4 separate regions of the Homo sapiens genome follow, and regions 2, 3 and 4 are each linked to region 1. The links come from fine-mapping of genetic effects on gene expression. A gene starts in region 1. Each other region holds a variant in brackets. All regions are shown on one strand. Distances are from middle to middle. Region 1 holds the start of PAK2 (p21 (RAC1) activated kinase 2). Region 2 overlaps PAK2 (p21 (RAC1) activated kinase 2). Region 3 overlaps PAK2 (p21 (RAC1) activated kinase 2). Region 4 has its middle 27 kb from the start of SENP5.

What was found. PIP is the estimated chance that this variant, and not a neighbour inherited with it, causes the effect.
Region 2: its variant is fine-mapped to the expression of PAK2 in whole blood (TOPMed, PIP above 0.99).
Region 3: its variant is fine-mapped to the expression of PAK2 in skeletal muscle (GTEx, PIP above 0.99).
Region 4: its variant is fine-mapped to the expression of PAK2 in whole blood (INTERVAL, PIP 0.92).

Annotation. Positions count from the first base shown.
Region 1 is chr3:196,736,122-196,744,101 of GRCh38, forward strand. It overlaps PAK2 (p21 (RAC1) activated kinase 2), which reads left to right and starts at 3,736. Exons shown (of 15, transcript NM_002577.4): 1 at 3,736-4,036. RefSeq lists a silencer at 3,527-4,316.
Region 2 is chr3:196,829,730-196,836,466 of GRCh38, forward strand. PAK2 (p21 (RAC1) activated kinase 2) reads left to right here. Exons shown (of 15, transcript NM_002577.4): 15 at 1-2,918. Among named protein-coding and RNA genes, the nearest start is that of SENP5, 35 kb to the right of the region's middle. The variant A/G (reference allele first, on the strand shown) is at 2,349.
Region 3 is chr3:196,821,434-196,829,065 of GRCh38, forward strand. PAK2 (p21 (RAC1) activated kinase 2) reads left to right here. Exons shown (of 15, transcript NM_002577.4): 14 at 5,763-5,900; 15 at 6,886-7,632. The coding sequence ends at 6,972. Among named protein-coding and RNA genes, the nearest start is that of SENP5, 43 kb to the right of the region's middle. The variant A/G (reference allele first, on the strand shown) is at 5,563.
Region 4 is chr3:196,837,330-196,845,309 of GRCh38, forward strand. No RefSeq gene overlaps it. Among named protein-coding and RNA genes, the nearest start is that of SENP5, 27 kb to the right of the region's middle. RefSeq lists a silencer at 4,670-4,824. The variant C/G (reference allele first, on the strand shown) is at 4,001.

The sequences.
Region 1 (7,980 bases):
AACCCCATCTCTACTAAAAATACAAAAAATTAGCCGGGAGTGGTGGCATGCGGCTGTAATCCCAGCTACTCGGGAGGCCGAGGCAGGAGAATCACTTGAACCCGGGAGGCAGAGGTTGCAGTGAGCCGAGATCGTACCACTGCACCCCAGCCTGGGCGACAGAGTGAGACTCCGTCACAAAAAAAAAAAAAAAAGGGAAAGAAAAAGAAAGAAATATACCTTTTAAGGAGTTCCTTTAGTGTGTCTCTGTTGGTAGCTTGTTTATGTTTGATGATATATTTATTTCATCCTCACTCATCTGATGGATAATTTAGGTAGTTGTACACTTTTTTTTTTTTTTTTTTTTTTGAGACAGAGTCTTGCTCTGTCGTCCAGGCTGGAGTGCAGTGGTGTGATCCCTGCTCACTGCAACCTCTGCTTCCTGGGTTCAAGTGATTCTCCTGCCTCAGCCTACCAAGTAGCTGGGACTACAGGCGCACACCACCACACCCTGCTATTTTTTATATTTTTAGCAGAGACAGGGTTTTGCCGTTGTTGGCCAGGCTGGTCTTGAACTCCTGATCTCAGGTGATCTGCCCACCTCAGCCTCCTAAAGTGCTGGGATTACAGGTGTGAGCCACTGTGCCCAGCCGGTAGCTGTACACTTCTAAGCTTGGTTATTTTCTCTTGGTACTTTGAAAATATACCATTATTGACTGGCACCCGTTTTGCTGTTGTGAAATCTGCTATGAATGTAATAGTTGTTTGTACAGAATGTCTTTTCTCTCTGGTTGCTTTATCTCTGGTATTCTGCGGTTTCATTTTCATGTGTTTGAAATTTCTTTACTTATCCTGCTTGGTATTCAGTTTGCTTCCTGAATCTGAAGATTCCTGTCTTTAATCAATTCTGGAAATTTTTCAGCCATTATCTCATCATTATCTGCCTCTCTTGGTTTTTCTCTTTTCTCTCCTGGAATTCTCATTAGGAGTATGGTAGAGACCTTAACAATCTATCCCCATGTCTCTTAAGCTTGCTTTCATTTTTCCTGTCTCTAGGCTGTTCTCAGTAATTTCTTTTGGTCTGTCTTCCAGTTTACTAATTTTCTCTTCAATTGTGTGTAATCTGCTATTTAACCAAACATTGGCTTTGGTTTCAGTTATTCTTTGTTTCTAGAAATTCTACTTAATTCTTTTGTTGTTGTTGTTTTTGTTTTGAGACGGAGTTTTGCTCTTGTTGCCCAGGCTGGAGTGCAATGGCATGTTCTTGGCTTACTGCAACCTCCACCTCCCAGGTTCAAGTGATTCTCCTGCCTCAGCCTCCTGAGTAGGTGGGACTACAGGTGCCCACCACCACGCCTGGCTAATTTTTGCATTTTTAGTAGAGACTGGGGTTTCACCATGTTGGCCAGGCTGGTCTCGAACTCCTGACCTCGGGTGATCTGCCCACCTCGGCCTCCCAAACTGCTGGGATTACAGGTGTGAGCCACCGCGCCTGGCCTACTTATTTCATTTTCAAAGCTGTTTGGTCGTTAAAAAAAAAAAGCATCTTGTTTCTTGCTCGTGTTTTCTAGCTCCTGTCTTACTTTCTTTAATCATTTAAATAGGCGTACTGTATATTCTGTAGCCATCAATTCCAGCAGCTAAAGTCTGTGTGGGTTTCATTATGTTCTTTGTAGTTTCTATTGACTCACTCATCGCTGCTTATTTCCTCAGGTGTATTGTATTTCGGGTGCTCATGTTTGGCTTCGGAAATCCTGTTTATCTGTGAAATCCTTTGAGACCGAGGTTGAGGGTACACCTGTGCAGTCAGGATTTGTATTTGTTTCTTCCAGGCCCCCCAGAACTCCAGCCTGGGACCACTTTCTTGACAAATTTGAACTTTAAAACCTTAGTGAGGGAAAATTCTAAAGGGTTATTAATTCTAAAGGGAAAATTTTCTTCTGCCCTGCAAGCCCACTGCAGGCCAAAGTAAACAAATGTCCTGTGTGTCTCCCTGGGCTAGCATAGGGTTTTTTTTCCCCCCAGTCTGTTCTTGGAGGGTATAGCGCCTTGAATTTCCAGTCCTATGCAGGATCACAGTCCTGACTTCTTGTATAGGCCCAAGTCCTTGTCTTTAGTTTCCTGTGCACCTATTAAAACTCTAGAGATTTCTGAGATAAGTAGGTGCCCTCAACACAACCATGGCTTCACTGCCCTGCTTACCACTCTGGTGTCCTGCCCCTTCTTCAGGTTGAGTGTGAAATTTGGAAGACTGTCAGAAACATTCTATTTTCATTCTTGCAAGTTATGCCTTTGAAAGGATGTCTTATTTATCCAGTGTTTCTGTGTGTTTAATAATCAGAGCATTTTTCAGGTTATCTCTTACTGTGCCATGTTGCTCCTTGATTCCTTTCTCTCCTGTACCCACTGCATCAATTGAGTTTTTTGCTCTACATTGATAGAGAAGCACAATTCCTCTTTCTTTCCACTGCCTTCCTACTTTATTTCCCTTCTATTCTTGCATCTCTATACTCCATTATCCACATTGCAGTCTAGTGATCTTAAAGTGTAAGCCAGGTAACATCGCTTTCCTGCTTAAAAAAGCCTTTTAATGGTTTTTTGTAATATAGACTTTTTACCATGGCATTCAGGATCTTTCATGACCTGAATCTTGTCTGCTGTAGTGTTTTCTTAATAGTACCGCCTTCTTGTTCTAGGCCCCAGCTACACAGGCCTTCTTAACTGACCGTAGCAAGCCCTTTTCTTTCTTCTCCTGCCTGTATTGCTTTTCTCTGGGTGCTTCTTATTGCTGTCTCTTTCTGTTCTTGCCTTAAGTGTCACCTCCTTAACGAGGCCTTCTCCGACCACCCTATCCAAAGTAACCTCGCCAAGTTTTTTCTTATACCAGGTGTGACTACTTTAATTACTGCGTCCTCATATAAGCTCCACAAAGGCTTGGTGAATCGTGTTCACCCTTGCATTTCTTTTGTGTTTTTTGTTTTGTTTTTGAGGCATGACGACTCTGTCACGCTGAAGTGCAGTGGCCCGATCTTGGCTCACTGCAGCCTCCTCCTCCTGGGTTCAAGCGATTCTCCTGCCTTAGTCTCCCGAGTAGCTGGGACTACAGATGCGTGCCACCATGCCCAGCTAATTTTTGTATTTTTAGTAGAAACGGGGTTTCATCGTGTTGGCCAGGCTGGTCTCGAACTCCCGACCTCAGGTGATCCGCCTGCCTCAGCCTCCCAAAGTGCTGGGATTACAGGCGTGAGCCACCGCACCTGAACCACCCTTGTATTTCTGATGCTTAACAGTGTCTAGTCCATATCAGACACTCAAATATTTGTAGAATAAGTGAAACATTGATGAACTCCTCCGTGGATAAAATAGGGAAGTCTTAATTTGCAAGGAGGTGATACTTAATTTAGCAGCAAAATTTTAGTTAAGAATTTGTAAGCAAAAAAGCAAAATGGATAACGGATGAATTCCCAGAAACAAATGTCGCGGAGCAGATGTGTATAACAGCAATCGTCTGTCAGCGTCTTCCGTCGGCAGAGACCTGCTTGGAGACAATGCTGAATTAAATGAGGGACTGGCTGCTCCTCTCAATACAAAGACTACCCAAGGAATAAAAGCAACGTCTATCACCGAACTACTACTCCCAGCGGCCCCCGCGCGGGCCTGCCCATGGGAGGTGGCGCTCGTCTCCGCCCCGGGGAGCTCCGGCTTCGGGGCGGGAGGGGTTCTGGGTTCTGGCCCCGCCCCGCCCCGCTCCCCGCCGTCTTCCTCCCCCAGGGTTGTGGCCACGCGCAGCGGCGGCGGTTGTTCCGCTTCCCCTCCGGCCCGGGCCGTCGCCATTGCCGAAGGCTCCCTCCCCTCCCCTCCCTGGCGTGCGCAGGACTCCGCCGCCGCTGGGCCTAGCGGTAGCAGCGGCTGCTCCAGCGCGGCGTCTCTTCCCGCCCCGCTTCCCCTTCCCTCCCCTCCCCTCCCCGCACCGCGCGCTAGCCCGGGGCGGCTCCGCAGCCCGCCGGGAGCTCTGACCGAGGCGCCTCGCTGGGGCGGGGACCTTGCCTTGCCCGGGGTAAGTGCACACAGGCCGGCCGGCGCGGGACGCAGGCCGGGTCTCTTCCTCCTCCTTCCTTCTCCGTGGCCTGGCGGGCGGGAGCGGCCCGGGACGGCCGACCTGCCCCGCGCGGGGCCGGGGAGCCGCCACCTGCGTGCTGGGAGCCGCAGCTCCTGGGGCGGTGGCTCATTGTCTGCTCCCCAGGGCCGTTTTCTTCGCTGGCTTTAGCCAGAAATGGGAAGCTCGCTGGGCTGCGGAGGTCTGACTCTTCCTGGACCCAGCCCTGCTCTGAACCTCGCGGCACCACGGTCTCTGCCGACTCTCGGTCTTCCCTCCCCTCGCGTTTCACCCTCTTCCTTTGCTCCGTTTTCTTAATGCTGGACCAGACTCTCCGGTTTTGTTCCTTGATTTTTCCTCTCACTGATTCTCAGCCCCTGCTTGCTCGCTCTCTGTTCACCCGTTTCACTGCTCAGGAATATTGTCGCGAGTAGCTTGACTGTTTTCTCAGCTCCAGCCTGTAACCTCTTTTCCACATTCCACATTGGTAAAAACGTAGAGCGTCCCGGGCGCTTGAGGGCCACCGCTTACGAACTGATCTTTCGGAGCTTCTCCTCGCTCCTGTTTGAGCTTCAGCCTAGGGGTGAAATTTGCTTCTTTAGATAACTTAGGTGAAGTTAAGATTGGTTTTTCACCATGTTTGGCTCTCTTGGAAACACACGCACGCACAAACACAAAACGTTGCCACTCAACCTTTTAACTAATTCTTTAAAGATAAGTCATCCAAGAACAGAAGCGTGTCATCGTCAGTGGGTGTGAGGTTGTACCCATCCTTGTATCTTAATTTTAGTAGTACTCTCCCTGGGCAGTGTGAGCGTGATTTGTTGTCCCTTGATAAATAACGAACTCCGGTTGATATCATTATCTCACTTCTGCGTTACAGGCGATGTGTCCTTTCTTTGTTTTCTTTTTTAACCTTTATAAAAAGACAAAATGGTTAGGCCTAAAATTAAACTACGAAGAGCTGTGTTTTGGATCAAGGTTGTGCACGTCACGTTTTTTCCCCTGCTGTGTTCGACTCTTCCGCTCTTATAAGTAGGCAGGATATTGAAATGTACAAGAATTTGCTCTGGGGATTTTGTTTTTGTAGGGTTGTCCAATAGAATAACACTCAGTAAAGTTACATTGGGATGAAGGCAGTGAATAGTAATTTTTAAAGCAGGTTAAAACTTGTCAACTTTGCCAGAAGGTCTGTGGCTTCTGTAAAGCCCACTCATGCTCGTGTATATATGAAGAGCCTTTTTCATGTTCTGTTAGGAGTATGGATTTCAGGCAACTTTTTCACTGTGTCATCCTCGGCTATTAAATCTTTCGAGCTACTTATTAGCCAAGCACATTGATTGACACTTATTACGGAAAGTGAACCTGTAATAGATGTAGGTCTTAAACCAACTTTCCGATTTGGTAACAGGTTGACCTAAATTCAGTGTATTTTGTGTTTTCACTAAGTAGCCCATTGTTACCTTTCCCTCCAGCAAGGCTCTGAAAAAAGTGGCTCCAATACTCAGCTTCAATACTGTCATCATTTCTTAAATAGTAGTATCAGTTGTCCTTAACTTAATGGATGTTTTATTGGCCTGAGGGATTAAGGTGTAGAAAGGTTGGAGTTTTGTTGGAGTTTGAAACTTGGTCTGTAGATGTTGGCTTCTCTGCCAGTTTCTTCTAATCAGCAGATATTTTTATGAAGGAAGAGTTCCTGGGTATTTCACTTCCCTTAGGGCCTTGGTTTATGGTTTACTCTCATTCAGAGAGAGATACTATTCTGGACTCCGTGCTATTTAATACTAACCTTGCAAACCCAAATTCAAAATTAAGTTTATAGTTCGAGTATACAGGCGATAGGGCTCTCTGATCTTTATGATAGACAGGTTCCCAAGTAGATGCGGTTAACAATTAATATTTCTTTTTTTTTTTTTTTTTTGAGACGGAGTTTCAGTTGCCCAGGCTGGAGTGCAATGGTGCGATCACCGCAACCTCCGCCTCCTGGGTTCAAGCGATTCTCCTGTCTCAGCCTGCTGAGTAGCTGGGATTACAGGCACGCGCCACCACGCGCGGCTAATTTTGTATTTTTAGTAGAGATGGGGTTTCACCGTGTTGGTTAGGCTGGTCTCGAACTCCCGACCTCAGGTCATCTGCCCGCCTCAGCCTCCCAAAATGCTGGGATAGGCGTGAGCCACGGCACACCACCAACAGTTTCTATTTCAATTATACTTTTTAAGAGAGACTAGAACTTGTTCAGGTAGCTAAAGATAAACTTTCAATTATACTTTTCTAATATTTAAGAACTTCAAGTAGCCAAGGATAAAATGAGTAGGAATTGTTAGATTCTTCCTTTTATCCATCAAAATCGATTATTATTATAATAATATTTGAGTATATTTCTTTTGGCTTTCTGACTTTTACACTTTTGGTTAAAATTTGAAACTGGGTCTTCTTCGCCGGGCGCGGTGGCTCACGCCTGTAATCCCAGCACTTTGGGAGGCCGAGGCGGGCGGATCACGAGGTCAGGAGATCAAGACCATCCTGGCTAACACAGTGAAACCCCGTCTCTACTAAAAATACAACAAAAAATTAGCCGGGCTTGGTGGCAGGCGCCTGTAGTCCCAGCTACTCGGGAGGCTGAGGCCGGAGAATGGCGTGATGAACCCGGGAGGCGGAGCTTGCAGTGAGTCGAGATCGCGCCACTGCACTCCCGCCTGGGCTACAGAGCGAGACTCCGTCTCATTAAAAAAGAAAAAGAAAAAGAAACTGGGTCAACTTCAAGACTTTAAGTCGTAAAGGTTTCCATCAGTTTGGTATAAGAGTTGAGTTTCCAGACTAATCAGAGGGAGGGTGTTAATTGCAAATTGTGTGTCCAAGCTCTTCCTAGTATCCTTTTTGTGCCTTAACAGAGCAGAATAGGAAAGGAAAAAAATCCCTCATTGCCCCCAAAAAATAAAATACTGGTTGTTTTCTTCTGTGATCAGAGTTGAGTTTCATCACTTCTTCCCTTCTAGGGTCACCTGCCTGGTTAAGGGTAGTCAGTCTGAACATTCATTCAGGATTTCAGTGTTCCAGCCTACTATCTCTGAGTTTCTTTAGTACTTACTCCATGTATCCCATGTGGTTAGGAGCTAGAGTCCTGCGTTTGAATTCTTGCTGTTCTACTTTACCCTGGGCAAGATATACATTCTTTTCAAGACTTGCTTTTCTCACCTGTAAGATGGGGATAATAATAATAATACCAATTTCACAGGGATATTTAGATCAAATGAGGGAATGCAGGTAAAGGATTCTGTAATTATAGGTCTTAATAAACGTTAGTTAATAGTCTGTTCTTACATGCTGTAGAGTCGATACTCCTAAACTTAGAATTAAAACTGCCTTCTAGGCCGGGTGCGGTGGCTCACACCTGTAATCACAACACATTAGGAGGCTGAGGTGGGCCGATCACTTGAGGTCAGGAGTTCAAGACCAGCCTGGCCAACATGGTGAAACCTATATTCTCTACTATTCTTTAGTAGAGAATTTAGTATTCTCTACTAAAAATAAAAATATTAGCTGGGCGTGGTGGCGGGCGCCTGTAATCCCAGCTACTCAGGAGGCTGAGGCAGGAGAACTGCTTGAACCCAGGAGGCAGAGGCTGCAGTGAGCTGAGATTGCGCCACTGCACTTCAGCCTGGGTGACAGAGTGAGACTCCGTCTCAAAAACAAACAAACAAACAAACAAAAAACTGCCTTCTAAAAGAACGAAGTTTCTGAGACCGTAACTAAAAATAAAAATTACTTTTGGATGAATAAAATGTAATTTTTCAGGAGAAAAAATATGTAATAGTTTCACCACTGAAATAAAACATAGGGTTTTTGAACACAAATTTCTCAGATTTAAAAATATGCATATTTCCTGTATAAAAGTTGAAAAGTGG
Region 2 (6,737 bases), 93 kb after region 1:
AGTTACTTTAGTTTAGTTTTGTTTTGTTTTTTCAAATAAGTAGAGACTATTGTAAAAAACGAGAAAGGAAAATGAAATGTGCGTGTTGATAGCAATAATTTGTTTCTTTTAAAGATTCTAAAAGGTCTGAGACCTGTAGCATTAATTATTTGAGTGCCCTCCCTTCTCCCCTCCCCTCCCTTTTCTCTTCTCTTTTTTCCTCTCCTCTTCTTCTCCTTTATTCATTGTTTTGCTTTTGGAGTGGGTGTTGTTCAAGTATCTGTGGTTTGGTTCTGGCATTTTGTTCCCACCATCCCCTTCCCCCATTAACTTCCCCCCTGCTTGCCATCCTGCAGTAGTATAAATCATGAATAAAAAATAATTTTGCTGTTGTAGTATACATTGGAGAAACTGGCAGGTTTTATTTCCATTATTTTATTTCCACTATATCTATGATAAGATGCAATTATAAGGAGAGAAGTGACTGTTTTTTATTGATAAGGCAAGATTTTCAGAAAAATGAGTAAAATAATTAATGAAACATATTTAGAGCACTTAATGGTCTCTGTTTTCAATATAATTCTTGATTTCATTTTTCTCTGGAATATATTGGCCTTCTACAGCTATTACTGAATTATAGAAACTGGTTTATTTCTGGCAGAAAGCTGCAGTGCCACCTGAGTTCCAAATTTTACCATTCTTTGTAAACAGTTGGATGGATTATGATAAAGAAGATGCTACCAATGAAATAGAAAACCAACGAGATGAGAAGACTGTGATCCTCATGTACTCAGAGGCACTTCCCTCCTAAGTCAAAGACCATCCTCACTGACTATGTGCCAACGCCTCGTTTCAGGCTTGTGACTCAACAAAGGGCTTTTCCATTGATAGAAGCAGTTTGGGATTTGTAGTTGCGACTTCTTCGATAGTTACCTGCACGTCCATTGCTGGCAACTGACTTGTCATTAAAACCTGGCTCTTTGGTTAAGGGAGCTACGCTGTGGTTTATTCTTAAGTTACGTGGATAAACTAACCTCTAACAGAAATATACTTTGGTTAATTTTGAAATGTGTCATTTTTAAACAATCTTAAAAGTAATACAGAATTGTGATTTATTAATTTTAAAACATTCAGAACTTGTTGAAAGAAAAATTATATCTGAATCAAGATTCATGTTTTTTATTTTTATTTTTTTTGATACAGAGTCTCACTCTGTCACTCAGGCTGGAGTGCAGTGACATGATCTCAGCTCACTGCAACCTCCGCTTCCTGGGTTCAAGCAATTCTCATGCCTCAGCCTCCTGAGTAGCTGAGACCACAGGCACCCGCCACCACACCCAGCTATTTTTTTGTATTTTTAGTAGAGACAGAGTCTCACCACATTGCCCAGGCTGGTCTCCAACTCCTGAGCTCAGGCAGTCTGCCCACCTTGGCCTCCCAAAGTGCTGCAGTTACAGGCGTGAGCCACTGCACCTGGCCTCATGTTTTTTAAATAATTGCCTTTTATATTTACCCTTTTTGTCATCACTTTAGAATGAAAATTCCCATTTAAATCTGAAAGTTACCTTAATAGTCCTCTTGTGTTATTAGGACAGTATTATTATAGTACTTATTTATTTTATTTTAGATTTAAAGTTATCTTCTCTTTTTCTTTTTTCTTCTGCTGCTTTTAGGGACAATTAAAACTGGGAAACTATGAAACATGGAACATTTTATCCTACCTGAAAGTAAACGAGTAATTGTGAAGCATAAGACACTGAGGCTAATACAACTCTGTCTTCATGTGTTGACTGCCTGGCACATAGTATTCATTCTCTTCCCTTTAACATAGAAGTGTCCAGCTGCGTACAGTCTAGTAACCAGCAACTGTAAACGAACCTGTGCCTCTAACAAGCGATTCTAAACCACCTATGAGTATTTCTTTTAGGGCTCACTTAAATACATGTTTGTATATACTGTATTCTAGCCAGAATAATTTTAGATCTGATCAGGTAGTAGCTAAAATTAGAAAAAAACAAAATAGATGCTTAAAGAATTTGCATCCATTTTTGAGTCTAAATCTTTTAAAATATACTGAGATCCACATCTAGTGAAATGTCAGTGTCAAAATATTATAGATTATAGCTAAAATCCAGATTAATACTCATTTGGGGTTTTTTATAGTGGAACTTCATAGTAATACAAAAAGCAGATTGTCTTCCTGTCTCCGCTGCTCCCACAGTAGGTATTGAAACTGGTAAAATCAGTTTTTTGATAGTGTGTGTATATAAGAAAAAATAGATACACACATTCTTTTTTCTCAGTCAACACATTGATTGAACACTCTGGCAAAGATGCTGTGGTGGATGAGGTTGGAGTTCGAAAGAAGA[A/G]GCAAGCGCTGGCCTGGCCTTGAAAGAACCGAAGTCTTTCCCATTCACTTCTCTAGAAAGCTGCCAAGACAGAGGCAGAAAGAAATGGATGATAGTTCTGTCAAGCACACTTCTGTTCTCTTAGAACTTAGAAGTGTTTCTAAGAGAACAGAAGTAATAAGAGAAACAGTTACGTGTGGAATTCAACATCTTTGGTTGGAACGCATTGGCTTTTTTTTTCTTGTTTTGATAGAAATGGAATTAAGCAAAAGTAGTTTTTGTCTTTTCTGTTGTCTTCAAATTTTATGCCTTTTATTTTTAATTTAATCCCGTTCAATTATTTAATTGTTATACATTGACATTAACTGCTGTATTTTGACTTTGTTCAATAATTTTGTTCTTTCAGGGCTAGAAATAAACTTTTTAAAAAAAGTGTGCATTTTTCCCTTTCCTAAACTTTTATTCTTTCTTTTGATCAGCGTAAAAGAATATTTTAATGTCTTTTGATAGCATAAAAGAATATTTAAATGTCTTAATAGGTTTTCAAAGAACATTTAGTATTTTTAGTGATAAATGTTTTAAACCTTTTAATGGTGTTGTGCCATCATTTTGAATTTATTACAAAGCTCCAAAGTAGGAAGGTTTCTAGAAATGTGTGGGCAGTAAACATGAAGTTTTCCTTTTTTTTTTTTTTTTTTTTTTTTTTGAGACAAGTCTCACTCTTTCTTCCAGGCTGGAGTGCAGTGGCGCCATCTCAGCTCACTGCAACCTCTGCCTCCCAGGTTCAAGTGATTCTCCTGCTTCGGCCTCCTGAGTAGTTAGGGGAAGTTTTCCCTTTCTAAATCAAGTTCAGAATAATTTTCTTTATCAATGTTTCTCTATCAGACCCAGGGAAACAGTTCTGATTTGAACACACACCTTGCTGGAGTAATAAAAACCTGATCAGAATTTCTGTGTTAAGTGAACCAAGAAACCTTTTAGAGTGCAATACGTCGTAAGGCATCACTTCATTATGTGAATTAATTTGGAATCTTAGGTACCCTAACATAGGGAACAGCCACAATAATGGTTTACTATCAAAAAGCATAAAATAAGGCCAGGCGTGGTGGCTCACACCTGTAATCCTAGCACTGGGAGGCTGAGACTGGCGGATTGCCTGAGCTCAGGCAGGAGACCAGCCTGGGCAACATGATGAAATCCCATCTCTACTAAAATACAAAAAAAAATCAGCCAGGTGTACTGGCACATGTCTGTAGTCCCAGCTACTTGGGAGGCTGAGGCACAAGAATTGTTTGAACCCGGGAGGTGAAGGTTGCAGTGAGACAAGATCATGCCATTGCACTCCAGCCTGGGTGACAGAGCAAGACTCCTGTCTCAAAAAGAAAAAAAAAAAAAAAAAAAAAAAAAAAAAAAAAAATATATATATATATATATATATTCTGGGTGAGAAGGGGAGGCAATGACTTTGAAATGTATTTGTTACACTATATGGCTGTTTCGTCTTGTTCTAACATTTATATTTCTTTGAACTAATAGCAAATGCTCAAAGCATTGCCTAAGAAAACTTTTAAAAGCCTGTGGTTAATTTCAGAAGCTCTATCTCTAGGGCTTGGCGGGAGGATGGCTCGAGCCTGGGAGGCAGAGGTTGCAGTGAGCCAAGATGGTGCCGCTGTACTCCAGCCTGGGTGACAGAGCAAGGCCCCTGTCTCAAAAAAAAAAGAGTTGGTAATTGCCTATATCTCTATAAAGAGAATTTTATAGTCTCAATAATCCTGATTATAGCTGTTTTACCCATACATCTTAGTTTGGGGTTAGGGAAAAAGACTAAAAATGCTGCATTTCTGGGAAACAATTTGTTCAGAAAATGACAGCATTTATATAAACTTGTGAGTTACGTGAAGAGACTGCTGATCTTCGCCGGGCGCGGTGGCTCCCGCCTGTAATCCCAGCGCTTTGGGAGGCCGAGGCGGGCGGATCACGAGGTCAGGAGATCGAGACCATCCTGGCTAACGTGGTGAAACCCCGTCTCTACTGAAAATACAAAAAATTAGCCGGGCGTGGTGGCAGGCGCCTGTAGTCCCAGCTACTCGGGAGGCTGAGGCTGGAGAATGGCGTGAACCCAGGAGGCGGAGGTTGCAGTGAGCCGAGATCGCGCCATTGCCCTCCAGCCTGGGCGACAGAGCGAGACTCCGTCTCAAAAAAAAAAAAAAGAGACTCCTGATCTTGAAAGGAATGACGCCCGTGGATACGTCATCTCTGGATAGTTGTTAGAAGGTGCCCGTTGCATTCCCTCGTTCATCCGTCCCAGTTTGCTCTGGAGCAGATGCAAACGTCTCACCCTCGTAGTGCTGTAACAGGCCAGATAGAGTGACAGTGCCAGATAGAGTGACAGTGCCATACATTTCTGTTTTTCATTCTTAGACCTGTAGGTATGTACAGCACAGCATCATCAACGCGTTGCCAAAAAACTATTTTCCTCCAATTCTTAATAAACTACTTCACTTTGACTTCTATATTTAAAATAGAAGTATAGGGCCAGGCGCAGTGGCTCACACCTGTAATCCCAGCACTTTGGGAGGCCGAGGTGGGTGTATCTATCACCTGAGGGCAGGAGTTTTAAGACCAGCCTGGCCAACATGGTGAAACCCCGTCTCTACTTAAAATAGAAAATGAGCCGGGCATGGTGGCGGGCGCCTGTAATCCCAGCTACTCAAGAGGCTGAGGCAGGAGAATCGCTTGAACCCGGGAGGCAGAGATTGCAGTGAGCCAAAATCACACCATTGCACTACAGCTTTTTGAGACTCCGTCTCAATAAAATAGAAGTGTACCATTTTCAAAACCTAGTTGATCACGGCCATAAAATTAAGTAATATCTAACAGTACAATCCAACTGTGATTGCTTTAATATATTGTCAGTAAAATCTTTAAGGAGTTTCAGGATTGAAACTAGAAGACATCTTAGTCACATTCAATATTCCTTACATTTTAGTACACTTTACGATTTGCTGCTAGTATCTTTGTTGAGCTGTTTTTCAGTAAACTAAAAATCTTAATCATTTGAGGTTTTAGTATAGATACTGTCACTGTTTTGTTCACACTCTTGGTGCTGTAGGAGTGTAAATGACCATCTCATTTGTTCATCTGTTCATGCTCTATTGGAGCATGCCGTAAGACTGTGGTGTCATTGAAAGTGACCTTTGGCCATGGACTGTTGGATATGTGGATCAGCTACTTTCATATAACTTGCATTGTCAGCAAATACTTTTCCACTTCCCTTCAGCCCTGCGTATTTTACCACGGATAAACGGTGTTCCATTATGCGCCTGCTCTGTCCCATTTCCGTAGTGTCTTTTTTTTATGACAAAGCACAGCTGGTCAAGGTGTTATCATGGGTCTGAGTGCACGAGTGTTTGTTGCTGCACGTTCCCCATCCAGTCACTAAGCAAGACACAGAACTGTATGAAAGCTTATTTTTACTTAGTTTCATCTTAGAGTCACATTTGAACTTGTGAGTTTCTTTTAAATGAAACTGTGTTTAATTTTGAGATTTGCTGCTAGGGGGAGGACTCCTTACGCTTTTTGAAGTTAGTAACAGCCCTCTCTAGTAGAATGTGCACAAAAACGGTTAATGTGAATTGGTGGGCTTGTTTCTGTGCTTTGTTTTGAGTGATAATACAAGGGCCTACATCATAGGGGGTTTTCAGGGTTAAATTCATTCATTTCAAATAAAATATTTAGAATGATGTCTAGCACAAAGTCAACATTTGATAAATGTAGTCTCCTCTCATTGCTTTTTTCCCCTCTGATATTGCGGGAGCAGATGCAGAAGTAACAGGATGCTGCACAGAGCTATTTGCACTTTTCTCCCATCTCTCGTATTTAAAAAATGGATGCATTATGGAAATTATGCTGCAAATATTACACAGCTTTTTTTTTTTTTTTTCTAACACAGGATCTCACTCTGTCGCCCAGGCTGGAGTGCAGTGGCACAATCTCGGCTCTCTGCAATCTCTGCCTCCTGGATTCAAGCGATTCTCCTGCCTCAGCCTCTGAGTAGTTGGGACTACAGGCACGTGCCATTACCGCCCAGCTAATTTTTTGTATTTTAAGTAGAGGCGGGGTTTCACCATGTTGGCCAGGCTGGTGTTGAACTCTTGACCTCAAGTGATCCACCCGCCTCAGCCTCCCAAAGTACTGGGATTACAGGCGTGAGCCACCACGTCTGGCTGTTCCACAGCTTTACACAAAGAAGGCCCCCAGTACATCCCTATTTGGTCACACAGTGTGAAATTGTGTATTTTACAGTATTGCATAGTTGGCAATATGAGACTGTGCATTGTAGTTTGGATAATCACTTCCCTGAAGGGATATTGCAGATAAAAAAGTTTAATTTGAGAATTGGTTCTTGAA
Region 3 (7,632 bases), 85 kb after region 1:
GCTTACACCTGTAGTCCCAGCACTTTGGGAGGCTGGGGTTGGAAGTTCAAGATCAGCCTGACCAACATGGAGAAACCCCATCTTTACTGAAAATACAAGATTAGCTGAGCATGGTGGTGGGTGCCTGTAATCCCAGCTACGTGGGAGGCTGAGGCAGGAGGATCACTTGAACCCAGGAGGCGGAGGTTGCAGTGAGCCGAGATCATGCCATCGCACTCCAGCCTGGTCGACAAAGCGAAACTCCGTCTCCATAAATAAATAAATAAATGTTGGTGAGAAGATAAGGAAACTAGAAATCTCGTTCATTGCAAAATATAAAATGGTACATCTGCTTTGGAAAACAACTTGACAATTCTGTGTGAAGTTAATACGGAATTACCAGATGACCTAGCGGTTCCTCTGCTGGGTACAGAGCCAAGAGAATTAAAATCATACATCCATACAGAAACCTTCATGCAGCCACAGAAGTGGAAATAATTCAAACCTGGTGAACAGTGGAATATTATTTGGTCATAGAAAGGAAGGAAGTGCCAATCCGTGTTACAGCATTGAACCTTGAGAGTACTGTGCTAAGTGAAAGAAGCCGAACAACAGATGGCAGCAGATTCTGACCGTCTGTTTCCTGAATGCTTTTCATCCAGTTGCCAAAGATTCCAGTTTATGTGGGCCGTTAAAGTACTTCTATAGAGGTGATTAGTTTAGACCACTTTTCAGAATGACATTAAAGCCCTCTAATGTTATTCATTCATTTAGCCAGTATTGGTTTGGGTACCTGCCATGCGCTGAGCACTATTCACAATGCTGTCTAAAAGAACCCACAAAAATTCCTGCTCTTACAGAACTTGTCTTCTAGTGGGAAAAGAGAAAAACAAAATAAATCAGAATAATGTGTCATACATTGAATAATGGACTCTTGAGTACTGAGACTGGCAGGAAGGAGGTTAGGGTGTTTACTTTCAAAAGGTGCTTAGAGAGCTGGGCACAGTGGCTCACGCCTGTCATCCCAGCATTTTGGGAGGCCAAGGTGGGAGGATTGCTTGAGCCTAGGAGTTCAAGGCCAGCCTAGGCAACATAGTGAGTCCCCATCTCTACAAAAAAATTTAAAAATTAGCCAAGCATGTTAGTGTGTGCCTGTAGTCACAGCTAATTGGAACCATCATCCTGCCCCAGTGCGTGGGTCACTTGGGCCCAAGGAAGATGAGGCTGCAGTGAGCTGTTATCACATCACTGCACTCCAGCTTGGGTGACGGCTAGGACCTGTCTCAAAAAAAATACAATAAAAATAAAATGTAAAATTAAATCAAAAGCGTGCATAGGGAGGGCTTCCCTGAGGTGACATTTGGACACAGGAAGTAAGAGCGTGATACTTACCTGAGGGAAAAGCATTCTAAGCAGAAGGCACAGCAAGTGCAAAAGCTCTAAAGCAGGAGCGTTCCTTGTGTATTGAGAGATGATTCTGGACCTCAGCACAGCTGGCGTACGCTGAGCAAACAGCGAGAGGTGCGGTCGATCGGCGAAGAAACCAGGCCAGACCGTAGTGCCTTATGAGAGCTCTGGAAGGATTCTGGCTTTTACTGGAGGCCAAATGGGGAAACTGTTAGAGAGATCTGAGCAGAGAAGCAAAGTGGTCTCCTTCAGTTTTAATAGGATTTCCCTGGCTGCGTTGTTGAGAGATCCCTGAGGAAGGCAAAGGCAGAGCAGAAGACCAGTCAAGAGGCTGATGTCATAATTCAGGCAAGCAGTGATGATGGCCTAGACCAGGGCAGTATCAGTGGAGGTGGGAAAAAGTGGTGTGAGTCTGGATGTATTTTGAAAGAAGAGTCTACATGAGAGAGAAAAGACTAACGGGATCTGTTCCCAAGTAACTCAACTGCATTCCTGTACAAAGCTGAAGAGTCTTACAGGGCTGCGTCTATAGCCAGGAGTACGCTCAGGCTTCAGAAGAGGCTCGCCTCCAGTGGCCTTCACTGTGGCAAAAAGGTCTACTTGAACCTCAGTGAGATCGGTAAAATCACCAGCGCCAAGCTCCTATCAGCAGATCCAGAAGCTGATCAAAGATGGGCTGATCATCTGCAAGCCTGTGACTATCCATTCCCAGGCTGGATCCCCGCAAACAAACAAACAAACAAACAAACAAAAAAAACACCTTGGGCCGGGCACGGTGGCTCATGCTTGTAATCTCAGCACTTTGGGAGGCCGAGGTGGGCAGATCACTTGAGGTCAGGAGTTCATGACCAGCCTAACATGATGAAACCTCGTCTCTACTAAAAATACAAAAATGAGCCAGGCATGGTGGCGTGCACCTGTATTCCCAGCTACTCGAGAGGCTGAGGTGGGAGAATTGCTTGAAACTGGGCGACAGGGAGAGATTCTGTCGCAAAAAAAAAAAAAAAGAAAAAAACACCTTGGCCCACAGGCATATGGGCATAACTGCTAATGCACACATTACCAAAAAGGCAGCCTGGATGAGGAAGATGAGAATTCCACCCCAGCTGCTCAGAAGACACTATGAATCTACCGAGATTGACCTTCACGTGTATCAGAGCCTGTACATGAAGTGAAGGGGGACGTGTTCAGAAACAAGCAGGTTCTTCGGAACTCATTCCAAGCTGAAGATAGACAAGGCCTCAAGAAGCTTCTCATTGACCAGGCCAGGGCACATGGCTCTAAGACCAGGAAAGCACTGTAGTTCCACGGAGAGTGCCTCTGGGCCAAGAGAAAATCATTAAGACTGTCCCAGGAGGAAGAAACTAAGAAATAAAGGTCTCCCTCTCTCGTCTGTACATAGTGGATCTTGGTGATTACATAGATCCAGTCATTCAAATACAACAAGATTTTATCTGCCTGATGGGGGGAAAAAGCATATTGGTAGGAATACAGAAATAGCCAGGACCCAGCAATCACCCAGACATCAGTCAAAGTTTACCAGACAGGCAAAGGAGCAGGCAGATGCAGCCCATAATGAGAAAAACTTCCAGGCAACTGGAACGGACAGAAGTTCATTAAAACAATCTCACGACTGCATTTCAGTTGTAAGAACTTTAAATGCATATTGCTTAGTGAAAGAATCCAGTCTAAAAAGGCTACATATTATTTCAACTGTAGAGAGTAAAAATGATTAGTGGTTATGGGGTTTGGCAGGGGATCGGGGGTAGAGAGGATGAGTAGGTGAAGCACAGGGAATTTTTTTGGGCAGTGAAATTACTTTGTATGATATTATAATGGCGGACACTGGAGAGCATTCATTTGTCAAAGCCCATGGAACAACTAGGCACGGTGGTGCACACCTGTAGTCCCTGCTGCTTGAAAGGCTGAAGCAGGAGGATCTCTTGACCCCAGGAGTTCAAGGCCAGCCTGGGCAACATATCGAGAATGCATTAAAAAAAAAAACAAGACCATAGGACTGTGTAATGTAATACAGAGTGAACCCTAATGTAAACTGAGGGCTTTAATTTAATAGAAGTGTATCAATATTGGTTCATTTGTAACAAATGTCCCATAGTATAATAATGTAGACAATAATAAAACTCCACATTGGGGAGGTTGCGTGTGGGAACTCTGTACTATCTGTTCAATTTTCTGTAAACCTAAAACTTCTAAAAAATTAGTCAGTTAAAAATAATAATTTAGGACCAGACGCAGCGGCTCATGCCTGTAATACCAGCACTTTGGGAGGCCAAGGTGGGCAGATCGCTTGAGGTTAGGAGTTTGAGACCAGCCTGGCCAATGTGGTGAAACCCCACCTCTACTAAAAATACAAAAATTAGTCAGGCGTAATGGTGCATGCCTGTACTCCCAGCTACTCGGGAGGCTGAGCTGCAAGAATTGCTGGAACCCGGGAGGCAGAGGTTGCCATGTGTTGAGATCATGCCACTGCATTCCAGCCTGGGCAACAGAGCGAGACTGTGTCTGAAAAGAAAAATAAATAGGCCAGATGCAGTGGCTCACACCTGTAATCCCAGCACTTTGGGAGGCCAAGGCGGGCAGATCACAAAGTTGGGAGTTTAAGACCAGCCTGGCCAACACAGTGAAACCCCGTCTCTACTGAAAATACAAAAAATTAGCCGGGCATTTTGGCGGGCGCCTATAATCCCAGCTACTCGGAAGGCTGAGGCAGGAGAATCGCTTGAACTCAGGAGGTGAAGGTTGCATCGAGCTGAGATCGTGCCATTGCATTCCAGCCTGGGCCACAGAGCCAGACTCCGTCTCAAAAATAAATAATAAATAAATAAATAAATAAAATTCAATTTATAGAAATGTAAAGGAAATAATTAGAACTATGTAAGGATTTTCTAAAGGGAGTTGATTAAATTAGGAAACATTCATATAAGGCAATATTTACTTAAGCCATTACAGTAATTTTATAGATCTAGGTAGTTATTAGTAATGATGACCTGGGATAATTTGTTTTTTTGGTTTTTATTTTTGAGACAGAGTCTTGCTGTCTTGTCCAGGCTGGAGTTACAGTGGTGCAATCTTGGCTCACTGCAACCTCCACCTCCCATATTCAAGCAGTTCTCCTGCCTCAGCCTCCCGAGTAGCTGGAACTACAGGCATGTGCCACCACACCCAGCTAATTGTTTTTTTTTTGTATTTTTAGTAGCGATGGGGTTTTGCCATGTTGCCCAGCCTGGTCTCGAGCTCCTGAGCCCAGGCAATCCACTTGTCTCAGCATCCCAGAGTGCTAGGATTACAGGCATCAGCCACCATGCCCAGCCTAATTTGTTTTTGTTTGTTTGTTTGTTTGTTTATTTTTGGGACGGAGTCTCGCTCTGTCGCCCAGGCTGGAGTGCAGTGGCGCAATCTCGGCTCACTGCAAGCTCTGCCTCCCGGGTTCACGTCATTGTCCTGCCTCAGCCTCCCGAGTAGCTGGGACTACAGGCGCCCACCACCACGCCCGGCTAATTTTTTGTATTTTTTAGTAGAGACAGGGTTTCACCATGTTAGTCAGGATGCTCTCAATCTCCTGACCTCGTGACCGGCCCGCCTTAGCCTCCCAAAGTACTGGGATTACAGGCGTGAGCCACCATGCCCGGCCTTGGTTTTTTTTTGTTTTGTTTTTTGTTTTTTAAGTTTTAACAAATCTCATTTTTTTTAATGATATGTATGACTTGAAAAAAATTTGAGAAACCTAAACAGGATGGTCAATGGTGAGGTTGTGGTTATTTTTAATTATTAACATTGTTTTATTTTTTAAAGCAATATGGGCTGGGCACAGTGGCTCACACCTGCAATCCAGCACTTTGGGAGGCCGAGGCAGGTGGATCATTTGAGGTCAGGAGTTCAAGACCAGCCTGACCAATATGATGAAACCCCACCTCTACTAAAAATACAAAGATTAGCAGGTCATGGTGGTATGCATCTGTAATCCCAGCTACTCGGGAGGCTGAGGCAGGAAAGTCACTTGAACCCAGGAGGCAGAGGTTGCAGTGAGCCAAGATTGCACCACTGCACTCCAGCCTGGGTGACAGAGCAAGATTCCGTCTCAACAAAAAAAAACAAAACAAAAGCAATATGTATTGCATTTATAACCGAAGAAAAACCAAAGGTGAATCTGATTTC[A/G]GAAAAGTAACTTAAGGAAATGTAACATCTAAAAATAAGAGGAAAGTATCAAATCTAAATTTAAATGGGATAATGATAACCCCAGTTTAGTATTTATGGTGATTTTCTTTAAAGAAGAAAGAATCCCTTAGACTTTATGGAGTGCTCTGTGACCGTGTTGAGCTATCTTAAGTGGATCAAAGATGTTCTTCTATTTTTAGGCCTTGTACCTAATAGCAACTAATGGAACCCCAGAACTTCAGAATCCAGAGAAACTTTCCCCAATATTTCGGGATTTCTTAAATCGATGTTTGGAAATGGATGTGGAAAAAAGGGGTTCAGCCAAAGAATTATTACAGGTAAATTTAAAAATGATTTCATTTGGGGGAATAGTTGACTTTTTTGGTAACCGACAGAAAGCTTTCCTAGGGCTAATAAGTAGATTTCACTACTCATTGATCACCAGCGGTATGGCAGCTGCTGCAATTTAGGGTTTCATCCTACCATGCTGAGCAAACTACCGCAAGGACAGAAAACCAAACACTGCATGTTCCCACTCATAGGTGGGAATTGAACAATGAGAACACCTGGACACAGGAAGGGGAACATCACACACCGGGGCCTGTTGTGGGGTGGGGGGAGTGGGGAGGGATAGCATTAGGAGATATACCTAATGTAAATGATGAGTTAACAGGTGCAGCACAGCAACATGGCACATGTGTACATATGTAACAAACCTGCACGTTGTGCGCATGTACCCTAGAACTTAAAGTATTAAAAAAAAAAGTGAGGGTTTCATCTGCTGTGAATAAAATTCTGACAAAACCGTAATGTGCAGTTTGTGCATCGTATCAATCCTCAGACCTGTTTACAGTTTGTGCATCGTATCAATCCTCAGACCTGTTTACAGTTTGTGCATCGTATCAATCCTCAGACCTGTTTACAGTTTGTGCATCGTATCAATCCTCAGACCTGTTTACAGTTTGTGCATCGTATCAATCCTCAGACCTGTTTACAGTTTGTGCATCGTATCAATCCTCAGACCTGTTTACAGTTTGTGCATCGTATCAATCCTCAGACCTGTTTACAGTTTGTGCATCGTATCACTCCTCAGACCTGTTTATTGCTGTTGTGTGTATATTTGTCAAACTAAAATGATTCTGCTTTCATTCAACTCTGAAAGTAATGCGTTGATTATGTTAGTCTTATGAAGGTATTAATATGTGTTTAGTTTATTAAATTATGATCGACAAGTAGTCTTTGGGGCTTAATTGAACAAAATTATTTTGTTTCTAACCTGATGAATGGCACTTATACATTTATTTTTCCCCTTCTTTCTGGCAGCATCCTTTCCTGAAACTGGCCAAACCGTTATCTAGCTTGACACCACTGATCATGGCAGCTAAAGAAGCAATGAAGAGTAACCGTTAACATCACTGCTGTGGCCTCATACTCTTTTTTCCATTTTCTACAAGAAGCCTTTTAGTATATGAAAATTATTACTCTTTTTGGGGTTTAAAGAAATGGTCTGCATAACCTGAATGAAAGAAGCAAATGACTATTCTCTGAAGACAACCAAGAGAAAATTGCAAAAAGACAAGTATGACTTTTATATGAACCCCTTCTTTAGGGTCCAGAAGGAATTGTGGACTGAATCACTAGCCTTAGGTCTTTCAGCAAACAGCCTATCAGGGCCATTTATCATGTGTGAGATTTGCATTTTACTTTGCTGACTTTGTTGTAATAGATCCCATTCATTGTCCCCTTTGGGGTATTTCCAATACTTGAATGGCAGATTGGAGTTTTTCAGAGTATGTGTTTCATCTGCTAGTCTTTCTCTCCTTCATAGCTTTTCTTTTCCTGGACTTGCTCCTTTTGAGTTGCTTTTGCGTTTCTCATGCCTAGGCAAGTGTAATAGAAATTATGTAGCTCCTTATGTTGGCAAAGGAGCTCTATATAGTTTCACTTTGTATAAAAGTTAGGACCAGCTGTTGTTACATGTAATATTTTAGTTCAGAACTTGACCTGAAGGAAGGGAAGAAAAGTATGTGATTTTTACCTTTTTTAACAAATGTGAAAAAGTCAGTTTTA
Region 4 (7,980 bases), 100 kb after region 1:
CCTCCAACCTCTTGTCCGGGTGTCAAGCAGGAGAAAGAGAGATGGCAAAAGGCAACGTGGAAAGCACAAGGGAGTAGTGCTTATATCGAGAGAACACAAATTTTCCCAGAAACCCTCAACTTCTGTCCCACTGGCCAGAACTGTCATTTGGCACCTCATAGCTGCAAGAGAGTCTAGGGAAGAGTGTTTCTCCAGATAAAATGAGACTCGTTAGTGAAGAAGGAGGGATGGAAATAGTATATAATTGTGACTACTATAGTTTGAGTGTGAAAATTGCTCTATTGGAATTTTTTTGTAGCTCTTCCCCTACTATTTCTACAGAGCACTGCCCCGTCTGTTGACTCCTTTGATACTACATGGTTGATGGGGTGCTCACTTTTAGATATGAGAAAAGGGGCTAGAGCATTAATCTCTTCAGTGTTATCCAGGTAGAATTTCAGCTCTTCTGGGTTAAGGAACTGGAAACTTTTCAACTCTCTAGGCCTCATCTCAGCTAGAGAGCTAGTTTTGAAGAAACGTAATTGCTTATGAAGTCATAAATGCAGTTTAAATGTAATTGGCAGTGTTGCAAGTTTAGTGATCCATCGTGGGAGGAGACCACAAGTATCTGCTACAAATTCCTGATTGAGCAATTGATTGATTTAGTTTAGCAGGAGCCTAGGTGACCCTGAGCAAATAGTCCTTCATGGGTGTTCCTGGCCCCTAAGTGTCCTCTAGGGGGTGCTGCTCCCACTGTCATGCTCCTCAAAGATGGAGCCTGCCAGAGGTGAAAGCCCAATTCCTGCCATTGCCCTGCTATCCTCGGGTTTATGTCCCATTCTGGAAGAACTCAAATGTAACATTATTCAATGTTACAAGCAGTCTCACTGTTCAGAAACATGGAGTTCTTTTGGTTCTTGAGTCAAACTTGGTATCAGCAAAGCTACATTCTCATAGGGAGAGAAAACAAGTCTGGGTGTCTCCCCAACTTCCTAGTGCTCCAGAGAGCCTGGCTCCCTGTAATAATTCTTATTCTTAAAAAAAAAGTAACTACATAATAGAGAAATACATTCTGATTTATAAAATTTCAGCCATTCAGACAAAAGAAAGCCTCTTCAATCCCAGTCCAAGTCCCCGTTCCAAAGGAAATCTCTTACTAGTTTCCATCTTTTCAGACCTTTCTCTTTGCATTATACCTAGATACTGGTCAGTTTTGTAGACCAAGCAGTTCTTGAAGGCTGCAATCAAAGACAATTTATGTTTGTTTCCCTCTCTTCTAACCCATTTTACAGGGGTAGTTCTTCCCCATTCCCTGGATGAAATTTAGAGCAAACACCCAGGCAGTTTTACCAATGAGTTCTAAGAATATTCAAAGAAAAAATTCCAATCCTGCACAAAGTATTTGAGGATATAGAAAACATTCCCCAAATTCTATTATAAGGATGGAGTAGCCATGATACCAAAATAATTGAAGAAGAAAATTATAGGATAGGCCAGGCGCAGTGGCTCACAACTATAATCCCAGCACTTTGGGAGGCTGAGGCAGGTGGATCACCTGAGGTCAGGAGTTTAAGACCAGCCTGGCCAACATGGTGAAACTCCCTCTCTTTAGCTGGGCATGGTGGCATGCACCTATAATCCCAGCTACTCAGGAGGCTGAGACAGGAGAATCACTTTAACCCAGGAGGTAGAGGTTGCAGTGAGCCGAGATCGTGCCGTTGCACTCCAGCCTGGGCAACAAGAGTAAAACTCCGTCTCAAAAAAAAAAAAAAAAAGTATAGGATAATCTCATAAATACAAATGTGCAATTATTAAATATATTACTAGCAAACCGAATCTAGCAATGTATGAAAGAGGTAGTGCATCCTAAACAAGTAGGCTTATGCATGTAAAAATCAAGATAATTTACAGTATTAGTAGATTATCTGGGCATCTCAACAGATTAAAGAGAGTGGCTGAGCCCAGTGGTTCACACCTGTAATCCCAGCACTCTGAGAGGACAACACAGGAGAATCACTTGAGGCCAGGCTCAAGACCAGCATGGGCAACATAGTGAGACCCTGTCTCTAAAAAACCTAATAAAAAAACATTAGCCAGGTATGGTAGCACACCTATAGTCCTGGCTACTCTGGAGGCTGAGCTAGGAGAATGGCTTGAGCCCAGGAGTTCAAGGTTGCAGTGACCTGTGATTGCACCATTGCACTCCAGCCCACATGACAGAGTGACACTGTCTCTTAAAAAAAAAAAAAAAAAAGCATTGGCTGGGCACGGTGGCTCACGCCTGTAATCCCAGCACTTTAGGAGGCCGAGGTGGGTGGATCACCTGAGGTAAGGAGTTCGAGACCAGCCTGACCAACATGGTGAAACCCTGTATCTACTAAAAATACAAAAATTAGCCGGGCATGGTGGCATGTACCTGTAATCCCAGCTACTCGGGAGGCTGAAGCAGCAGAATCACTTGAACCTGGGAGGCAGAGGTTGCAGTGAGCTGAGACCTCTCCATTGCACTCCAGCTTCGGCAAAAAGAGCAAAACTCCATCTCAAAAAAAAAAAAAGCATTTAGTAAAATTCAGTATCAATTCATGATTAAAAATATATATTTTAGCAAATTAGGAGTGAACTTTTTTTTTCCGAGATAGAGTCTTGCTCTGTTGCCCAGACTGCAGTGCAGTGGCATGATCTCAGCTCACTGCAACCTCCGCCTCCCAGGTTCAAGCAATTCTCCTCCCTCAGCCTCCCGAGTAGCTGGGATTACAGGTGTGAGCCACCACACCTGGCTAATTTTTGTATTCTTAGTAGAGACGGGGTTTCACCATGTTGGCCAGGCTGGTCTTGAACTCCTGACCTCAGGTGATCCACGTGCCTCGGCCTCCGAAAGTTCTGGGATTACAGTGAAGCCACTGTGCCAGCCAGGAGTGAACTGAATCACTTGAACCCGGGAGGCTGAGGTTGTGGTGAGCCGAGATCACACCATTGCACTCCAGCCTGGGCAACAAGAGCGAAACTCCATCTCAAAAAAAAAAAAAAGAATTTGAAAGCAATGGCTGGGCACAATGACTCACGGCTATAATCCCAGCACTTTGGGAGGCCGAGGCAGGTGGATCACCTGAGGTCAGGAGTTTGAGATCAGCCTGGCCAACATGGTGAAACCTGGTCTCTACTAAAAATACAAAATTACCCGGGCGTGGTGGTGGGCACCTGTAATCCTGGAGGCTGAGGCAGGAGAATCACTTGAACCTGGGAGGTGGAGGTTTTAGTGAGCCGAGATCACGCCACTGCACTCCAGACTGGGCAACAGAGTGAGACTTGGTCTCGAAAAAAAAAAAAAAAAAAGGAATTGGAAAGCAAGATAAAATCTCATTATTTTCAGATAAGGTTGATATGATAAACTATTAAAATTAAGAAATTTAGCAAGTTTGCTGTATGCAAAATCAGTGTGCAAGAGTCTATTATATTGCTAAGCACTAGCAACAAATAGAACACATAATCTTAAAAATCTACCATTTATAACAGATCAAAAATACAAAGTACCTAGAAATGGTCACTCCTGTAATCCCAGCACTTTGGATCACCTGAGGTCAGGAGTTCCAGACCAGCCTGGCCAACATGGTGAAACCCCATCTCTACAAAAATACAAAAATTAGTTGGGCATGGTGGCGTGCGCCTGTAATCCCAGCTACTCAGGAGGCTGAGGCAGGAGAATTGCTTGAACCCAGGAGGCAGAGGTTGCAGTGAGCCGAGATCGCACCATTGCACTCCAGCCTGGGGTGATGGAGTGAGACTCTGTCTCAAAAAATAAATAAATAAACAAAAAGGGAGGATTTTACTGAAAGATTTTAAATGTTGGATTGGAAACTATTTTATGGATAGTTGAAATTGCACTTCAAAAGAGAAACAATTTAATTCAATTTAAGCCAGATAAATGAAACATTGGTTCAAAGTCAGAAATACATAGTCCTCTAAATTTTAGTATAAAGAGACACTTTACAGAAGCCATAAAGTAGCCTGTAGAGGCCAGCAC[C/G]GGGGCTTATGCCTGTAATCCCAGCACTGTGGGAGGCTGAGGTGGGTGGATCACCTGAGGTCAGGAGTTCAAGACCAGCCTGGGCAACATGGTGAAACCCTGTTTCTACTAAAAATACAAAATTAGCCGGGTGTGGTGGCGCACTCCTATAGTCCCAGCTACTTGGGAGGCTTAGGCAGGAGAATCGCTTGAACCCAGGAGGTGGAAGTTGCAGTGAGCTGAGATCATGCCATTGCACTCCAGCCTGGGCACAAAGAGTGAAACTCCATCTCAAAATAATAATAATAATAATAATAATAATAATAATAATAATATTCAAAAAGGAGAATAGTTGGGAAGCCTATAAATTTCAGCCTATCCTAATTCAGGGATCCTGCTTCTAGGAGGAAGAAAAAAAGGCATCCAATAGAGATGAATGAACGTTGTATACCCCCTTTGCCTCCTTTTCAGGATAATTTAGTGCAAACTTTAATACTCGCCATTCAGATGCTCTTCAGTCATAACTCCTAAACATGCTGAGGGCCTGTTGTGTGTCTGAATTAGTGGATAGGGAAATGAGGCACAAAAGGCAATTTTGAAGACTGGCCTCTTTCAGAATTGCAGAGTTTGGTGGACTTTATTTTTTTCTTTTTTTGGGGGGTGGGGGGCGCAATCTCACTCTGTCACCCAGGCTGGAGTGCAGTGGTGTAATCGGCTCACTGCAAGCTCCGCCTCCCAGGTTCAAGCGATTCTCCTGCCTCAGCCTCCCCAGTAGCTGGACTACAGGCGCCCACCACCATGCCTGGCTAATTTTTGTATTTTCAGTAGAGACGTTTCAGCATATTGGCCAGGCTGGTCTTGGACTCCTGACCTTGTGATCCGTCCGCCACAGCCTCCCAAAGTGCTGGGATTACAGGTGTGAGCCCCTGCACCTGGCCTTTGGTAGACTTTATATTGAGGAGCTTTTGTGGCTGAGTAAACTCTGGACTTTTGGAAGGAGAAGAGGTAGAAAGGTGTTCATGGAAAGGGACCCAATCCCCCAGGAGAGGGTTCTTGGACCTCATGCAAGAAATAATTCCAGGGGAGTCCACGGAGTAAACTGAAAGCAAGTTTATTAAGAAAGTAAAGGAATAGGGCCGGGCGGGGTGGCTCACACCTGTAATCCCAGCACTTTGGGAGGCCGAGGCAGGCGGATCACCAGGTCAAGAGATCGAGACCATCCTGCCAACATGGTGAAACCCCATCTTTACTAAAAATACAAAAATTAGCTGGGAGTGTTGGCATGCGCCTGTAATCCCAGCTACTCGGGAGGCTGAGGTAGGAGAATCACTTAAACCCGGGAGCAGAGGTTGCAGGGAGCCGAGACTGTGCCATTGAGCTCCTCCTGCCTGGGCCACAAGAGCAAAACTCCGTCTCAAAAAAAAAGGAAAAGAAAGGAATAGAGCACGTCTGCTCCATAGGCAGCGCGGCAGCTTGGGCTGCTTGACTGAATATACTTACAGTTATGCTAAACAAGGGGTGGATTGTTCATGAGTTTTCCAGGAAGGGGGTGAGCAATTCCCGGAACTGAGGATTCCTCCCCTTTTTAGACCATACAGTGTAATTTCCTGACGTTGCCATGTCATTTGTAAACTGTCATGGTGCTGGCGGGAGTGTCCTTCAGCAGCTAATGCATTATAATTAGCGTCTAATGAACAGTGAGGACCACCAGAGGTCACCTCATTGCCGTCTTGGTTTTGGTGGGTTTTGGCTGGCTTGGTAACACATCTTGTTTTATCAGCAGGGTCTTTATGACCTGTATCTTGTGCTGACCTCCAGGCCTCAGCCTTATTTTAACCAGTCCTTATTCAAGATGGAGTCACTCCGGTTCAAACACCTCTGACAAAGGGATAAAGAAAAACGTGGTCTGCAGATTGTTGCAAATGAACCTAAGCCAGGTTTGATCATGCCTCATTTTTGTTTGGTTGTTTTTTTCCTTTTTTTTTTTTTTTTTGAGACAGGGTTTCACACTGTCACTCGGGCTGGAGTGCAGTGGTGCGATCTCAGCTCACTGTAAACTCCACCTCCCAGGCTCAAGTGATCCTAACACCTCAGCCTCTCAAGTAGGGACTACAGCCACCACACCCGGCTAATTTTTGTGTTTTTTTGTAGACGGGTTTCACCATGTGACCCAGGCTGGTCTTGAACCCCTAGCCTCAAGTGATCCACCGCTTCAACCTTCTAAAGTGCTTGGATTACAGGTGTGAGCCACCTCACCCGGACATGCTTAGGTTGTTTCTGTAAAGTTATAGCTACCTATGGAGTTTGAGGTGGTGAGGGTTAACTAACTTCTGACAACCCCCCTGCCAGATTATAATGAAAGCAAGTCGCAGACCAAATCTTGTCACACACCTGAAAGCTCATTTAAGCAAACATTTGTCAGCAAAAGTGTTTGTTCAGCCTATCCTGTAGCTCACTATAATCCATGCTCTCTGTCCCAAATGCTCTGTCCACAACTTTGCATGAAAAGTTCACTTGAGGCAGAGAGGGAAACGTGCCAGGGGCCAGGATTCTGTTACCCTTAAAGATGGCATCATGTAACCAGACATCCTCTTAACTAGTGGCTGGTCACAGGATTATGTAACGATGGAGCCCTGAGGGCCATTCCTAAGGGGTCGCGTTGCTGACCTCACTAGATTCTTACACCTTGTTTATGCAAAGGCAGCAGGAGTCTCTCAAATAACTTTAGCCAATGGAAGGATCCCGAACACCTTTCATTTCACTGATGAGAGCCCACTGATGACCTCATTACCAATTAACAAGCAACTCAGTTCATCAGGAAACAGCCATTTCTTTTTCCATTTATTTATTTATTTATCGAGACAGTGTCTAGCTCTGCTGCCTAGGCTGGAGGGCAGTGGTGTGATCATGGCTCACTATAGCTTTGACCTCCTGGGCTCAAGCAATCCTTCCAGTTCAGCTTCCTGAGTAACTGGGAGCAGAGATGCTCGCCACTACAGCTGGCTACTTTTTTTATTTTTTGTACGGATGGGGTCTCACTATGTTGCCCAGGCTTGTGACTGCACAATGGGTTCCCCTTGCCCGTTGCCTAGGCAGAACTGATACCTCACGACAGGGGAACTGCAGTACAGAAAGAGTAATTCACGCAGAGCCGGCTGTACAGGAGATCGCGGTTTTATTATTATTCAAATCAGTCTCTCCAGGCATTGGGGGATCAGTGTTTTTAAGGATAATTTGGTGGGTGGGGGAAGGCCAGTGAGAGAGTGTTGATTGGTTGGGCCGGAGAGGAAATCATGGGAAATTGAAGCTGTCTTCTTGCGCTGAGTCAGTTCCTGGGTCGGGGCCACAAGATCAGATGAGCCAGTTTATCCATCTGGGTGGTGCCAGCTGATCCATCAAGTGTGGAGTCTGCAAAGTATCTCAAGCGCTGATCTTAGGAGCAGTGTAGGGAGGGTCAGAATCTTGTAGCCTCCAGCTGCATGGCTCCTAAACCATCATTTCTAATCTTGTGACTAATGTTAGTCTAGTCCCCCGGCAAGAAGGAGGTCTGCTTTGGGAAAGGGCTGTTACCGTCTTTGTTTTAAACTATAAATTAAGTTTCCCCCCAAGTTAGTTCAGCCTACGCCCAGGAATGAACAAGGGCAGCTTGGAGGTTAGACGCAAGATGGAGTCGGTTAGGTCGGATCTCTTTCACTGACTCAGTTACAATTTTGCAATAGCGGTTTCAGGCTGATCTCAAACTCCTAGGCTCAAGTGATCCTCCCGCCTCGGCCTCCCAAAGTGTTGGGATTACAGGTGTGAACCCCCACACCCAGCCAAAAAATCTATTTCTGATCATCACTCAGCTTGTTAACTGAGCCTCAGGCGTTGATTGAGATGTAGATAATAGAAATGCTTGCAGTACTGCACTCCAGTCTGGAACAACAGAGCAAGACCCTATCTCTTAAAAAAAAAAAAAAAGTGCCAGTAGTAGCTGCCTCTAGTGTGTAAGTAACCTTTCT